2 linked regions of the Homo sapiens genome follow. The protein of the gene in region 1 interacts with the protein of each later gene in a biochemical or structural test. Each region holds a gene or a part of one and is shown on either strand. Other genes may lie near its edges.

The links. Proteins that work in one complex are often made in the same cells at the same time.
Region 2: the proteins of ZBTB7A (region 1) and ZBTB48 form a complex in vitro, tested with the Homo sapiens proteins (one study listed by BioGRID).

What each region holds. Positions count from the first base shown.
Region 1 is NC_000019.10:4,063,899-4,071,072, forward strand, and holds the start of ZBTB7A (zinc finger and BTB domain-containing protein 7A), read right to left. Parts: upstream 3,002-7,174; 5' UTR 2,784-3,001; intron 1,632-2,783; exon of another isoform or gene 1,532-1,631; intron 1,384-1,531; exon of another isoform or gene 350-1,383; intron 1-349. UniProt on the Homo sapiens protein: Transcription factor that represses the transcription of a wide range of genes involved in cell proliferation and differentiation.
Region 2 is NC_000001.11:6,582,869-6,589,780, reverse strand, and holds the end of ZBTB48 (zinc finger and BTB domain-containing protein 48), read right to left. Parts: intron 3,863-6,912; coding exon 3,751-3,862; intron 3,205-3,750; coding exon of another isoform or gene 3,118-3,204; exon of another isoform or gene 3,087-3,117; coding exon 2,994-3,086; intron 2,577-2,993; coding exon 2,490-2,576; intron 2,304-2,489; coding exon 2,149-2,303; intron 1,722-2,148; coding exon 1,585-1,721; intron 1,504-1,584; coding exon 1,339-1,503; intron 1,026-1,338; coding exon 937-1,025; intron 866-936; coding exon 569-865; 3' UTR 501-568; downstream 1-500. UniProt on the Homo sapiens protein: Plays a critical role in transcriptional regulation and chromatin remodeling. Acts as a regulator of telomere length. Directly binds the telomeric double-stranded 5'-TTAGGG-3' repeat.

The DNA of each region.
Region 1 (7,174 bases):
TTGACCTCCCCTCCCGGCCTTGGTTTCCTCCTCATATGGCAACGGGGATCTGCCACCAGGTGGACCCAGCTATAGGTCAGAGGGACTCAAGGAAAGAAAAGGAAAAAACAAACAAACAAACAAACACCCAGCAGGGATTTGTGATCGCCCCAGGAACCTTTCCGACCAGGCCCCAGGCTGGGCTCTGCCTCGGCCGCGCCTCAGTCTCCCGCACAGAGCAAAGGACCCATCCACTGCCTGCGGCCGCCCGCGGGCCTCTGCCGATGCGTGGCTGCCCGCCCGGGCCCAGGTGCTGACTGGCCGCCACGCAGCCAATCGGAACTGAATAATAAATACCCCCCGGACTGACCCACGAATTAAAATTTCAGTGTCCCGGTTGGCTCTTCTTTCCTTCCTTAGACTTCGCTTTTCCAGCGGCCGGCTCCTGCCCCCCCTTCTCCCCCAAGCTCTGTCTCCACAGCGATGGCTGGTGGTAAACAGAGGCCCCGGCCCCGCCGATAGGTGCTCTCGGGGCCCCATGGCGGGTGGCCCTCGCGGACAAACGCCCCCGGCCTGAAGCCCTCAGGCCCTGGCAGCAGCAGGGCTGGGCTTAGGCCTGGCCTGGCCTGGGCCCCTGCCCCAGCCTGGCCTCCCCGGGACCTCTCCCAGACCAGTTTGCCAATAGGAAGTGATCGGCCGGTGGTGGGGAGGCACCCCCAGTGTGGGAGCGGCACGCTCAGGGTTACGCCCTGGTCCAGTTCTGAGGTTGGGGCGGGGGGCACTGACACGGAATCCCCACGCCCTCTCCGGAGGCAGCTGGCAGGGAGGTGGGGGGGCCCACCGAGCCCGCCACCCATGGGTGAGCCAGGTGGGTGCCGCGGGTGGCAGGGGCACCAGCACCTCTGTGACTTCCGCCGCCTGACTGGGGGGAGAGGAGTTGCTGCCTCCCCCCGCCTCGCCGCCAACTCCTGGCTGCATTCCGCCAACATTTAGTGGGCGCCGACTGGGTGTCCGGGCCCGGGTGGACAGCAACCTCCCGCCGCGGCCCACCGTGCGCCCCCGCCAGCCAGCCCGGGCAGCGCCTCCCAGAACCCGCAGAGGCCCGGTCCCTGGGGGGGCACCCGCTCCTCCGCTCCGCTCAGCCCCCAGCCAGGCTCCCAGGCCGGGGGGGCTGGGTCTCCCGCCCGGGAGGTAGGGAGCGGGAGGGAGGGGGCTGGATCCCACCAGCTCCCCCCTCCCCTGCCCGGGCTCAGGCTTCGCACGTGGTGGTGGCGTCAAGGGAAAGGAGGGGGGGTCCGGGCCAGAGGAGACGGGGTCACGCGCTTTGGGGGCGCGGACGGCGGGGACTGGGGTGCTCTCTCCGCCCCCTCCCGCGGGTCGGAGCCGGACGGCCGTCCGGGCAGGGCGAGGGGCCAGGCCAGGCCCCCCACCCGGGGCTGAGTCAGGCCCGGGCGGGGGCAGGAAGCGGCCCCCTCCCCCGCCCCGGCCGCAGCGCGCGGCCCCCGCCCGGCCCGCGGTCCCCCGCCGCCTCGCCCGCGCGGGGGGCTCCTACCTCCTTCCCGGGGCAGCGGCGAGGGGGCCCGGCCCCGGCGGCGGCGGTGGCGGCGGCTGCGGCTGGGCTGGCTCCCTCCGAGGGGCCGGGAGGCGGCAGTGAGCCTGGCCCCGCGCCACCCCCCGCCGCCGGCGGCCAATCCCCACCCGGGCTGGGGGGAGGGCGATGCAAATTACCCCGGATCTGGGTCCGCCCGCCCGCCTCCCCCACGCCCGGGCCCGGCCTGCGCTAGGCCGCGCATCCCCGGGCTCGCCTGCACCGCGCGGCCGCCCGGGCCGCCGCCCTCCCCGGGGAGCGCGGGGAGGGTGACCCCCCCCCCACGGGCGGGGGGCCGAGGGGAGGGGGGCTGGGGACGGTTACACAACCAGGCGGGGAGGGGCCCCGGGGCGGGGAGGGGGCCGGCCCGCGGGCCGCGCAGCCGGAAGCCGGGACCGCCACCGGCCCCCGGCGAGGGGAGCCCGGCTCCAGGCCCCGCCCCCTGGCGGGCTGGCCCCGCCCCCGCGCCGCGCCGCGCGATCGGCCCGCGCCCATTGGCTCTCCGGCCCGCCGCTCACCGCCCCTCCTCCGCACCGCCCCTACCCGCAGGCCGCGGCGGGCTGTCGGCGCGGGGCACCCTGGGACTTGTAGTCCAAGCCGCTTGCCACCTGCCGGCTGCAAACGGCGGAGGGACTACGAAGCCCAGAGGTCCCTGCGGCCCTGCCCGCCCACCCGGACACCCCACCCCTTCCCCCTCCTTTCCGAAGCCCCCCTCCCTGTTTTTTCAGCCCCCTCCCCCCCATCCCCCATGGAGCTCAATCCTGGCCAACTCCAACGTATGCACGCAGCACCGAATAGGCCCCCGGGGGGCGAGAGCGCCCCTCGTCTTCAGCTGGAAACTTAGCAGGCGACGCGCCCCCCTATCTCCCCACGCCGGCTCCCCCCACCCTCAATGCAGCCCTGCTTCCCCTCCCCCGCTCCCCGCGCGCCTGGGAGCCCCGAAAAGCCATGCACCCGGGTTGGGGGGGGCTGGCGCACAAGCTCATGCACTTAGCCCCCAATCCCCCCTTCCCGGGCGGCGCCCCCTCCCCGCGCTCGGGATCCAGGGCGCCTCCAGCCTCCGGGCAGCTGCCAACCACCCCTTCCTCTGAAACTTGGGGGAACGTCCCCGGCTCCCCGGATCTCCCCTTCCCGAGGGGGCAGCGGTGGCCGCAGCGACCCCCGCCCGTCCCCGCCCTGCACCCCGTGCCGGGGGCCGCGCCGGGCGCTGACTTACCTCGCGGGGCCGGGCCGGGGCGCGCGGGGCCGGGGCCCGAAGTTGGGACTGGGCTCCCTCGGCCGCTCGCCTCCGGGGTCCGCGGCGCTCGCTCTGCCCGCGTCGCGCTGCCCTGGTCGCTCCCTCGCGCGGCGGCGGCGGCGTCACTGCCCCTACAGTAACTGTACAGTACAGCCAAAGCCCCGTATGATGCTCGCGACTCCCTTCCTGGTTTCTCCGAGGGCAAGAGGGGTCCTCCCTTGTCTTAAAGGTGCCGCAGCCGCCGGCCCCCCCACGCCCAGCCCGCCCCCCCCAGCCTGGCCTCGGAGGCCAGAACAGGCTCGGCAGGTCCCCTCTTGCCACGTCTCTGCCCTCCCGTGGGGCTTCGCCCGCTGCGCCGGGGAGACCGGGCTGTTATTAGGTTTTGTCAAGTCGGGGGGGGGGGTCCGGCCCGCCCCGGCGCGCCCCCCCGCCTCTGACCTCTCCGCCCCGCCGCGCGGCGCCGTGCCAGCTTGCCAGCTTATCTGGCCCCAGAGCTCCCCGGGGCGCGGGGGGAGCGGGCCCCCCGGGGTGGAGGGGGGGTGGGGGCCTCCAGATAAACAGGCCCCCAGCCTCTGCGCAGGGGCGGGGTGCGGGGGGGCGCGGGCTGTGCCCCCGACGCCCGGGGCGTGGCAGGATGGCAGCGGGGGCGGGGAGCGCGGTGCGCACAGCGAGGAGCGACGCGGGCGTGTGGGTCGCGCGGCCTGGGCTGCCGGGGGTGGGTTGGGGGTGAGGCGGTGGGGATCCCCCCGCAAGGCCAGGCCCTGGGCCTCCCCGGGCCTCAGTGGGACTTGCCGCGCCAGGGACCCCGGGGGGTGGCCTTGCCAAGGACAGCCCGGGTCCGCGGGGCTCCCGGGTCCCTAAATGAAACCACCAACCTGCCCTCCCGCGATTATATAAAGGAGTCGCCTCCACCCCGCTGCGCTAGGGGCGTCAGCGGGGGAAGGGGTTGGCGAGGGGCGGGGAGGGCGGTTGTTTTCCCGGCTTCGCGAGTTCCCCCACCCGGCTGCGGGCCGCGGGGCGGGACGGGGACCGGGCCCTGGACGCCTGGTCCGCGCGGGCCGCTCCTTGGCACAAGGGGGTCTGCATGGCTCGCGAGGGGCGGAGGTGGGGAGTGGGGAGGCGTTGGTTCAGCGCGACTTTTTTTTTTCCCCTGTCCGTTTCTCCCACTTCCTCCCCGGTCGTGGGAGAGGTCCGGCGGGGGACAGGGAAGGGGGAGCAGGGCACGAGTGGTGAGAACGTCCTGGCCCGGCCCGGGGAGGGCTGGCTGGTGCGACCGCGCGCCTGGGGGGGGGGGGGAGGGCTCCAGGACTCAGTTTCCCCTTCCTCATTCCTCCAGACAGAGAGAGTACTGACAGCTGCTTTAGCTGCCGTTTAGTGAGCGCTTATCCAGTGGGTGACCCTGTTCCGGGGCTCACTGTGCCTTCATTCTAACACCTAATCCCAGGGTCATTATTATGTTTTATTATTATCTGGCATTCTTAGTACCAACACCACCTGACAGCGGGAACCACCACCGGCCTGGGTGTAGTGTACCCAGCCTGTCCTCTGACTTCAAAGCCTCTCCTGCGAGAGACACAGTTTATGGCTTCTTCGCACAATTTATTAAAAGCGCCTTTCAACACCCAAACGGGTTGGATTGGCTTTTGTAATAATAATCTGGCTACGAGGGGAAACCCGGGAGGGCCCCCCGGAGGGGAAGTGGACTGTCTCAGGACTCGCAGCCTGAAACCAGCCGGGTAGGTGGGAAGGGACCCAGGGAGGGGCCGCGTGGATCTAGGGCGAGGGTGTCATCCAGGGACTTTGCTCCAAGGACCCTGCCTGGGATAGAAATCCTTCTTCCTTCAACCACCGGCCATCAGCCTCGGGACCAGGAGGCCACGCTGAAGCACGATTCTTCCCAGATCCCACTGTTGTGTTTGGATTTCTGCAAATGATGCCCAGACGTTTTTTTTTGTTTTGTTTTTTTGTTTTTTGTTTTAGACAGACTTGCTCTGTCGCCCAGCCTGGAGTGCAATGGCACGATCTTGGCTTACTGCAATCTCCGCCTCCCGGGTTCAAGCGATTCCCCTGCCTCAGCCTCCTGAGTAGCTGGGATTACAGGCACCTGCCACCACGCCCGGCTAATTTTTTTTTTTTTTTTTGTATTTTTAGTAGATACAGAGTTTTGCCATGTTGGCAAGCCTGGTCTCAAACTCTTGACTTCAGGTGATCCAACCACCTTGGCCTCCCAAAGGGCTGGGATTACAGGCGTGAGCCACCGTGGCTGGCCTTGGTTTTTTTTGTTTGTTTGTTTTGTTTTTTGTTTTTTTAATAGAGATTTGGTGGGGCCGTGGGGGGGTCTTGCTATGTTTCCCAGGTCTCAAACTCCTGGGCTTCAGTGTTCCTCCCACCTGAGCCTCCCACAGTGCTGAGATGACAGGAATGAACCATCGTGCCAGCGAGACGCCCAGGCTCTAAGCTCTACATGGTCTAACTTCCCCCACACCAGGAGCAGCAGGTGACTCAGTTTCCCCTCTTGTACCACCAGCCTCAGATCCGATCCTGCAGGAAAAGGATCGAGAAAGCCCCACTCGGATTCTCCATGGTGAGAACCTGACTCAGAGGGGCAGGGGCTCCTCTGTGAGACGGGCATGGACCCTAATCCTCATCGCAGCCCTGAGAAGAAGCAGAGACTACAATTTCCACCATACAGTTGGGGAAACTGAGGCCCAGAGATGGACAAGGAGCAAGGATGTTAAGTCCAGCATTCGCGTGTCTCTGGACGCTGCCAGGGGGACCAAAGGGAGGTCCTTCAGGAAGTGCCAGGATGTGGCACACCCCAAACCACGCCCCCCGCCCCTGTCATGAAAACAGAACGAAGGGGACCCAAAGCTTCCTCCTGACCTCTGCCCTTCACTTCCTTTTTCCTCCCCCAACCAAAAAAAAAAAAAAAAAAAAAAAACCCGAGTTGATACTATTGAAAACCTAATAAAGTATAAAAGATTGGGTTGCTGTGTGATCTTGGGCAGGTTGCTTAACCTCTCTGATCCTCAGACTCCTTTGGAGAGAAGAATCGATGCAACTTCCTAGTGTTGTGACAAGGGAGAAATGAGACGGTGCATGGAACGCTGAGACAGCACAACCCCTGCACCAGGGAGGTCTTCATTACATGATAGGTGTGATTATATTATTAATGTTTGAGTCACGCCTATTATTTTTGTCTCTGTGTAGCCAGGGGTTTTCTGTTTGTCTGTTTGTTTGTTTGTTTATTTGTTTGTGAGACAGAGGTTCACTCTTATTGCCCAGGCTGGAGTGTAATGGCACGATCTCGGCTCACCACAACCTCTGCCTCTCAGGTTCAAGCGATTTTCCTGCCTCAACCTCCCAAGTAGCTGGGATTACAGGCATACGCCACCACATCCGGCTAATTTTTTTTTTTTTTTTTTTTGAGACAAGTCTCACACTATTGCCCAGGCTGGAGTGCAATGGCACGATCTCGGCTCACTGCAACCTCCGCCTCCCTGGTTCAAGCGATTCTCCTGCCTCAGCCTCCTGAGTAGCTGGGATTACAGCCGCGCACCACCATGCCCAGCTAATTTTGCGTTTTTATAGAGATGGGGTTTCACTATGTGGGCAAGGCTAGTCTCAAACTCCTGACCTCATGATCCGCCCGCCTCGGCCTCCCAAAGTGCTGGGATTACAGGCATAAGCCACCGTGCCCGGCCTCTAATTTTGTATTTTTAGTAGAGACGGGGTTTCTCCATGTTATTCAGGCTGGTCTTGAACTCCCGACCTCAGATGATCCGCCCACCTCGGCCTCCCAAAGTGCTGGGATTACAGGCGTGAGCCACCGGGCCCGGCCGTAGCCAGGGTTATTATCCTTGGTGGATAGATGTAGACAGGGGACCAGGGAGGAGGAGTAACTTAGCAAAGACACAAAGGGAGTGGCTGGGGGGACTTGAGTTTCAGTTACGTTGACTAGACTGTGCTGTGAAGTCATGTAATATTTTATTTTATTTTTATTTATTTATTTATTTTGATACGGAGTCTCCCTCTGTTGCCCAGGCTGGAGTGCAGTGCCGCGATCTCAGCTCACTGCAACCTTCACCTCCCGGGTTCAAGCAATTCTTGTGCCTCAGCCTCCCAAGTAGCTGGGACTACAGGTGCACGCCACCATGCACAGCTAATTTTTGTATTTTTACTGGAGATGGAGTTTCACCATATTGGCCAAGCTGGTCTCAAATCCCTGACCTTGTGATCCACCCACCTTGGCCTCCCAAATTGCTGGGATTACAGGCATGAGCCACCGCGCCTGGCCCCATCTCCATTTTTTAAAAATAAATGAATAATAATAATAATGAAATAGAATGTTTATTTTATTTTATTTTATT
Region 2 (6,912 bases), on another chromosome or scaffold:
AACGTGGGGACCAAAGCCTCCTGGACACAGACCAGGCTGCTTGAAGGAAGGGCCCCACCCTCCTCAGACCCCCAGGCGTGCTCAGCTACACTAACTGGGCCCAATCCTTGATTCTGCCCAACAAGGCCAGCCCCGTGGGCCCTGATCACTCTACTGAACTCCAGAAGCTTAGTAATGAATTCTATCTCCAGAAGCCGGTATCACCTCAGCTCTAAAATAGGAATACTGGTGCTCTAACTGGCCAGCGTTCCCCACTCTAAAATCCTGCAGTAATGAGGAACAGAATACAGATGTGGAGAGCAGCCAAGGCCAGAGGTTTGGCCCCCAAAGGAACCCCATCCAAGCCTCGCTCAGCTGAGGTTTCCTGACAGGAGGGGAAGCTGCCAGCTGAGCTGAGGCCCACATAGGACCGGGCAGGGCACTACTCTCTCCTGAAGGCGTGGGTGGGAAGGCAGCACTTCCCCAACTCCAGGACACGGGAACAGACTGTCAGGCTGAAATACGAGAGTCCAAAGCCACACGGTTTATTGAGGGGTGGGGCCAAGTGGGCTCTGGTGGCCAGAATGGGCTATGTGTCACAGTCCTCGGGGACAGCAGCTGTGATGATGAGGGAGGGCTCCAGGACACCTGGGCCGGTGAAGCTCTCCTCTGCACACAGTCTCTGGCCGGGGAGCTGGGAGGCCAGGCCGCCCTGGGCCAGGGACTCCACAATGACCTCCGCCGAGCCCACCTCCAGCTCTGCAGGCGGCTGCAGCGCCACCACCACCATCTTCTCGTCCTCGATGATCAGGTTGCGGAGCTTGCGCTGCCGCGGGTTGTAGTTCTCTACCCGGTCGTGGATCTCCATGTGCCTCCGCAGGTGGGCCTGGCGGGGAGGGTGAGCTCAGAACTTTGGGGGATCCTAGGGTAGGGGAAGGGGCCCAGGCCCTGGCCTACCTGTCGGGTAAACTTGTAGCCACACTCGGTGCACTCAAACTTCCTCACCCCCTTGTGCCGTCTGACGTGCACACGCAGTTGCTCCACGGCTGCAAGAGGGAGAACACCGTGGGGGATCATGCAGGAGCCCCGGGACCCTCGAGGAAACCCAGCAGGAGGTTGGGACAGGCAGCAAGGGAGGGGACCAGTGGTTTACAAGTGCTGCACAGGCCCTGCCAGGCTCTCCAGTGCCACCCAGGGTCACTACTGCACAGGACACCCCTGCCTTCAAAGCAGGTCCACTCTCAACTCTAACCATGTGGGGCACAAAAGAGGTTCACAGGCAAGAAAGGAGCGTTTCCTCCTCAGAGACCCTCCAACTCGGATGAGCAGGAAATGGCTCTCCCAGGGCCGCCCAGGTACCTTTGAAGGTCTTGCCGCATATCTGGCAGAAGTGGGGCCGGCCCTCCTGATGGCGGCTGGCCACGTGCCTCAGGAGGGGCCCCTTCTCAGTGAAGCGCTGTTCACAGAACTCGCAACTGAAGGGCCTTTCCCCGGTGTGGGTGCGGTTGTGCTTGTCCAGGCTGGCTGCAGGCACAAGGCAAGAGCTCAGCCTGTGGCCTTGGCCTCAGGATGGGGAGGCGAGGGGAGGGGCAGGGCGTACCTCACCTTGGGTTCGGAAGGTCTTGCCACAGAGGTGGCACTGGAAGGGCTTCTCACCCGTGTGTGTGCGCAGGTGCATGTTGAGATTGGCCTTTTGGGTGAAGGCGTGGCTGCAGAACTCACATACGTGTGGCCTCTCATTCCTGTTAAGGTGGGGACATGGGGCAGAGGCCATCACCAAGGGAAGTGACCCCCTTGCTCTGCTACAGCTAGGAGCATGCCTGGTGGAAAGAGGGCTTGGGCAGTGCTAGGAAAGGGGCACCACCTCCACCCCGAGAGCAGAAGGACAATCTATGAGCAGGAGTCACAGGAAACTAAGGAAGCTCAGAATCTGCCCCGGGGGCACAGAGGCTTGTCTGAGCCTGAAACATCTGCCCCCAGCCTCTCTGCCTGGCATAGCTGCTTGCCCCTCAGGTCCCACTATCCCAGAGAGGCTGTAGGCACTAGATTCAGGGTGGAGGCCAAGGGCACACTCATCTGTGTAAAAGTCAGCAAACTCTGTCTTCCCTGCCGGTGCAAGCCTGGGCTGGCAGCAGGACTGGGCCCCAAGAGAGAACGGGCGACACGCACCTGTGCTTGGCCTTGATGTGCATCTGCAGGCCATTCCGGCTCGAGGCCCGGTGCCCACACTCCTCACACACAAACAGCTTCTCACCACGGTGCTTGAAAGCTTCATGCAGCTGCAGCTCTGTCCGAGACAGGAAGCACTTGGCACAGGTGGGGCACTGCAGGCAGACCAGGCAGGCAGAGGGAGGGACCAGGGCCAGGGTGAGAGCAGGGAAGGGCTGCCTGGGAGACCCACAAGCACCCCCCCGAACAACAGAAAGTACATGGCCGGCTGCCCACTCTGGGCACAGCTCACTCTTGCTCATGCCAGCATCAAAGCATGCCCAGCCCTCCCTGTCACTTACTGCATGGGGCTTGGGGGCTCCATGAAGTTTGATCATGTGGCTCTGCAAGTCCTTCTTCTGCATGAACTGCTGGGAGCAGGAGGAACACTGAAAAAGAGGCCCACAGTCACCTCCAGGGCGGCCTGCACCCATGAAACCCTGCCACCCACCCTTGGGCTATAGGGCAGGAACTAGAGGGAGGCCCCGGTGAGATGATTCTGGGAGGACCCCTGATCTGGTGTGAAGGATGGTGCAAAGGAGGGCCCTCAGGGCTCAGCTGCCCAGAGGATGCCAAGCCTGTCCTCCATGGAAAGAAACAAGGGCCTAATAAGGACCTTGGAGGTGAGGCTGCAGACAGTAGCCCTGCCTAGATAAGGGGGCACTGGAAAGGCAGGGAAGGCAGGGAAGGCAGGCTCCCTGACAGCTACTGTGAGGGAGGTGCCTGACAGCACCCCACGTAAAGGGCTCAGCAGGAAGGATCCTGGGGCCACCCAACCCTGGCCCTGGAGACAGGCCAAGCCTGACCTTGTAGGGCATCTCCCCTGTGTGAGACACCATGTGCACCCGCAGCTCCATCCTTCGGCGGAATGTCTCCTGGCACACAGAGCACGTGAAGACCTGGCAGTGTGAGGGGCAAGCAGGGCCGGCATCAGCGGGGGCCTCTGCCTATGACAGCAGCCTCTGCCCGGGCTTCCGCTTGCTGCTGGGAAGAGTCTGCCTGGGGAGGGTGGGGACGCTAGGGTGGGAGAGGGCAACACATAACCTGCCTGGCCTGACCATCACTGAGTGCTGCAAGCCCACCGCACACCAGGCCCTTCTCAGGCCCAGACAGACTGGGGGCAGGGTCCGAGTGGCCTCACCCACAGTCCCTGGCCCTAGTGGCTGCTGACAGGCCTCTAGGAAGAGTGGGCCTGGGTTTCGGCGGGCCCTGACACAGAAGCCAGCAGTGGGGTTGCTGGGGGTGGCCAGGGGGCCTTTCCCAGCTGCCATCCCCTGTAGCGGCTCCCCTTCTCCAAAGCCAAGGTGGAGGTGGGCCAGGGGCCTAGGAAAGCCAACCCCAAATGCCTCCCACAGAGTCCCTCCTATGCCTGTCCCTTCCGCCCTCAGGACCTGTGTCCCCACCTGTACCAGGGCATGGACCTCATGACATCCAAGGACCCCACAGCTTTCCTGAGTTTACAGTACCCCTCTCAGACAGTCTCCTGGGGCCCTTCCCGGATGGCACGAAGACAGAGAGGCCAGTGTGCCCTGCCCACAAGTACCTGGGCCAGCTCCCAAGTACCTGTTCCGAGCGGTTCATGCAATTCCGGGCTTCATGCTCCAGGAGGTTCTCCTTCCGAAAGTAACACTTCCCACATTTGGGACACTCAAAGGGTTTCTCCCCAGTATGTTTCCTGCCAGGAGAAGCCACAGGGGTGGGGGGGCTGAGAGGGTTTCCCATCTCTCCCTCACCCAGGGCCCCCTCTGGGTCCCTTCTAAGGGGAACAAGTGTTCTCAGGTGACACCGGCTGGTTAAGGTGCAGGGACAAGCCCAGAAGCCTCCCCCAGCATGGAGACTCTGCAAGGGAGAGTGCAGTGGCAAGAAGCTCACACAGGTCCTAAGAGGCTGCCATGGATCTGGCCAGCACAGAGGCCGACAGGGAGGCCCAGCTGACCGCATTCTGTCTGAAGGCAGAAACAGATCTTGGGTCCTGACTATTGGAGAAGCAACTCAGTCTTCCCAGAGCTTCAAACCCATGGCCAGATCCTCACCTGACTCCACTGGCCCACCAAGGCTGGCAACAGCTTCTCCCAGGTAGCCAGGGGAGCTGCCCATCTGGTCTCCCCGCTCCGTGACTGCCTCCCCCACAGGTTTCAGTTCAGGAGCCAGAAGGACCTTTAAGTCAGACCTCAGTACCTCTTGGCTCACGTATCCCCAGTGCTTCCCCATTCAGAGAAAGGGCCCGGGAGGCCTATCAAGGCGCAGGCAGCCCTCCCCTTGCCTGCTTCTCTCCCAGGGTGTCGTCTGGCCACCTGGATCAGGCATGTGCCTCCTTGCTGCCTGTCACGCCCCCAGGATCCTCCTACCCCAGCGCCCTGGCTCTTCTCTCTGCCCAGATGCTCCCCAGTCACCCACTTGGTCAACTTCCTCACCTCCTTTGAGTCTTTGCTTAAATCTCACCTTCTCAGTAAGACTCTAGAGACCCTGGCTACTTAAAATCGCAATCGAACCCCACTCACAACTCCCCAACCCCTTGGCCCGCCTCTGCTTTTTCTTCTTCGGCAGCACTTCCTCACCGTCTACTGCAGGCAGATGGACTTATCTGTTATCTGCATTGCCTGGCAAGCAGGTCGGCTGCACAAGCACCTTTGTTTAGTTCCCTTAAATGCATCCCAAGCACCCACAAAGCCTTGCTGGCCACCTGGTAGACTGCTTAATCAATGAACTAAACGAACTCGACCTCAGAGCCCCTGTGCAGCCTGCGACAGCTCCTCCCACCTTCCAGAGGCCAAGCAGCTCTCTCATCCTCTTCCTCTACAGCAACTATCTTCATCCCCCATCAAAATGACTTCATGAAGCCATCCCCTCCCAGTTCTCAGGGCCAGTCCAGCAAGCTGAAGCCCAAGGAAGGGATGGAAACTGCCCCAGAGTCTTACCCCAGCAGAGTACTTGAAAGCAAGCATCCAGCAGTACACAGGCTGCCCCAGGACCCCCGACACTGGGGTTATCCCAGCATTCCACTGGCAGCAGCTGCCCTGAACACGGTGCACAGGGACAGCGAACGGGTTTCCCCCTGGCTCCCATTCTAGGTGATTACTAGTGTGCCGCCCAACCTGGCATGGCAAGAAAACACACCATGATAGACTAGTGATGTCTTGGCTGGGAGTGGCAGGACTGGAAGGCATGCCACTGGGCCGCCATCCCCACAGGCCTTGCAGGGACTCCAAAGCAGTGCCGCCCAAGGGGATTCTCCACGATGATGGAAATGTGCTATGTCAGCACTGCCCGATTCAGCCACCAGGAGACACGTGGTTCCTCACCACTTCAGATTTGGCTAACGTATCTGAGGAACTGAATTTTTATTTAATTTTAAATTTTAAGTTAAAATAGTCCCTGGGGGCTGGGCACGGTGGCTCTCGCCTGTAATCCCAGCACTTTGGGAAGCTAAGGCAGGTGGATCGCAAGGTCAGGAGTTTGAGATCAGCCTGGCCAATATGGTGAAACCCATCACTACTAAAAAGTAAAAAAATGGCTGGGCACGGTGGCTCACGCCTGTAATCCCAGCACTTTGGGAGGCTGAGGCAGGTGGATCACAAGGTCAGGAGTTCGAAACCAGCCTGACCAACATGCTGAAACCCTGTCTCTACTAAACACACACAAAAAAATTAGCCAGGTGTGGTGGCGCGTGCCTGTAATCCCAGCTACTCAGGAGGCTGAGGCAGGAGAATCGCTTGAACCTGGGAGGCAGAGGTTGTAGTGAGCTTAGACGGAGCCACCACACTCCAGCCTGGGCGACAGAGGGGAGACTCCATCTCAAAAAAAAAAAAAAAAAAAAGTAAAACAATTAGCTGGGCGTAGTGGTGCGCACCTGTAGTCCCAGCTACTGAGGAGGCTGAGGCAGGAGAATCGCTTAAACCTGGGAGACAGAAGTTGCAGTGAGCCAAGATCATGCCACTGCACTCCAACCTGGGCGACACAGTGAGACTGTCTCAAAAAAAAAAAAAAAAATAACAGGCTGGGCGCAGTGGCTCATGCCTGTAGTCCCAGCACTTTGGGAGGCCGAGGCAGGTGGATCACAAGGTCAGGAGTTCAAGACCAGCCTGGCCAAGATAGTGAAGCCCCATCTCTACTAAAAATACAAATATTAGCCAGGCGTGGTGGCAGGCACCTGTAATCCCAGCTACTCGGGAGGCTGAGACAGGAGAATCGCTTGAACCCAGGAGGCGGAGGTTGCAGTGAGCCGATCTCATGCCACTGCACTCCAGCCTGGCAACAGAGTGAGACTCCGTCTCAAAAAAATAAAATAAAATGAAAAACAACATAGGCTGAGCATGGTGGCTCACACCTGTAATCCCAGCACTTTGGGAGGCCAAGGCGGGTGGATCACAAGGTCAGGAGATTGAGACCATCATGGCCATCATGGTGAAACCCCGTCTCTACTAAAATACAAAAAATTAGCCGGGTGTGGTGGCATGTGCCTGTAATCCCAGCTATTTGGGAGGCTGAAGCAGAGGAATCACTTGAACCCAGGAGGCAGAGGTTGCACTGAGCTGAGATCACGCTACTGCACTCTAGCCTGGTGACAGAGCAAGACTCCAACTCAAAAACAAAAACAAACAAAAAACATAAAATAGCCCCTGGGGGCTGGGCATGGTGGCTCACACCTATAATTCCAGCACTTTGGGAGGCCAGGGTGGGTGGATCGATTGAGCCCAGGAGTTTGAGACCAGCCTGGGCAACAGA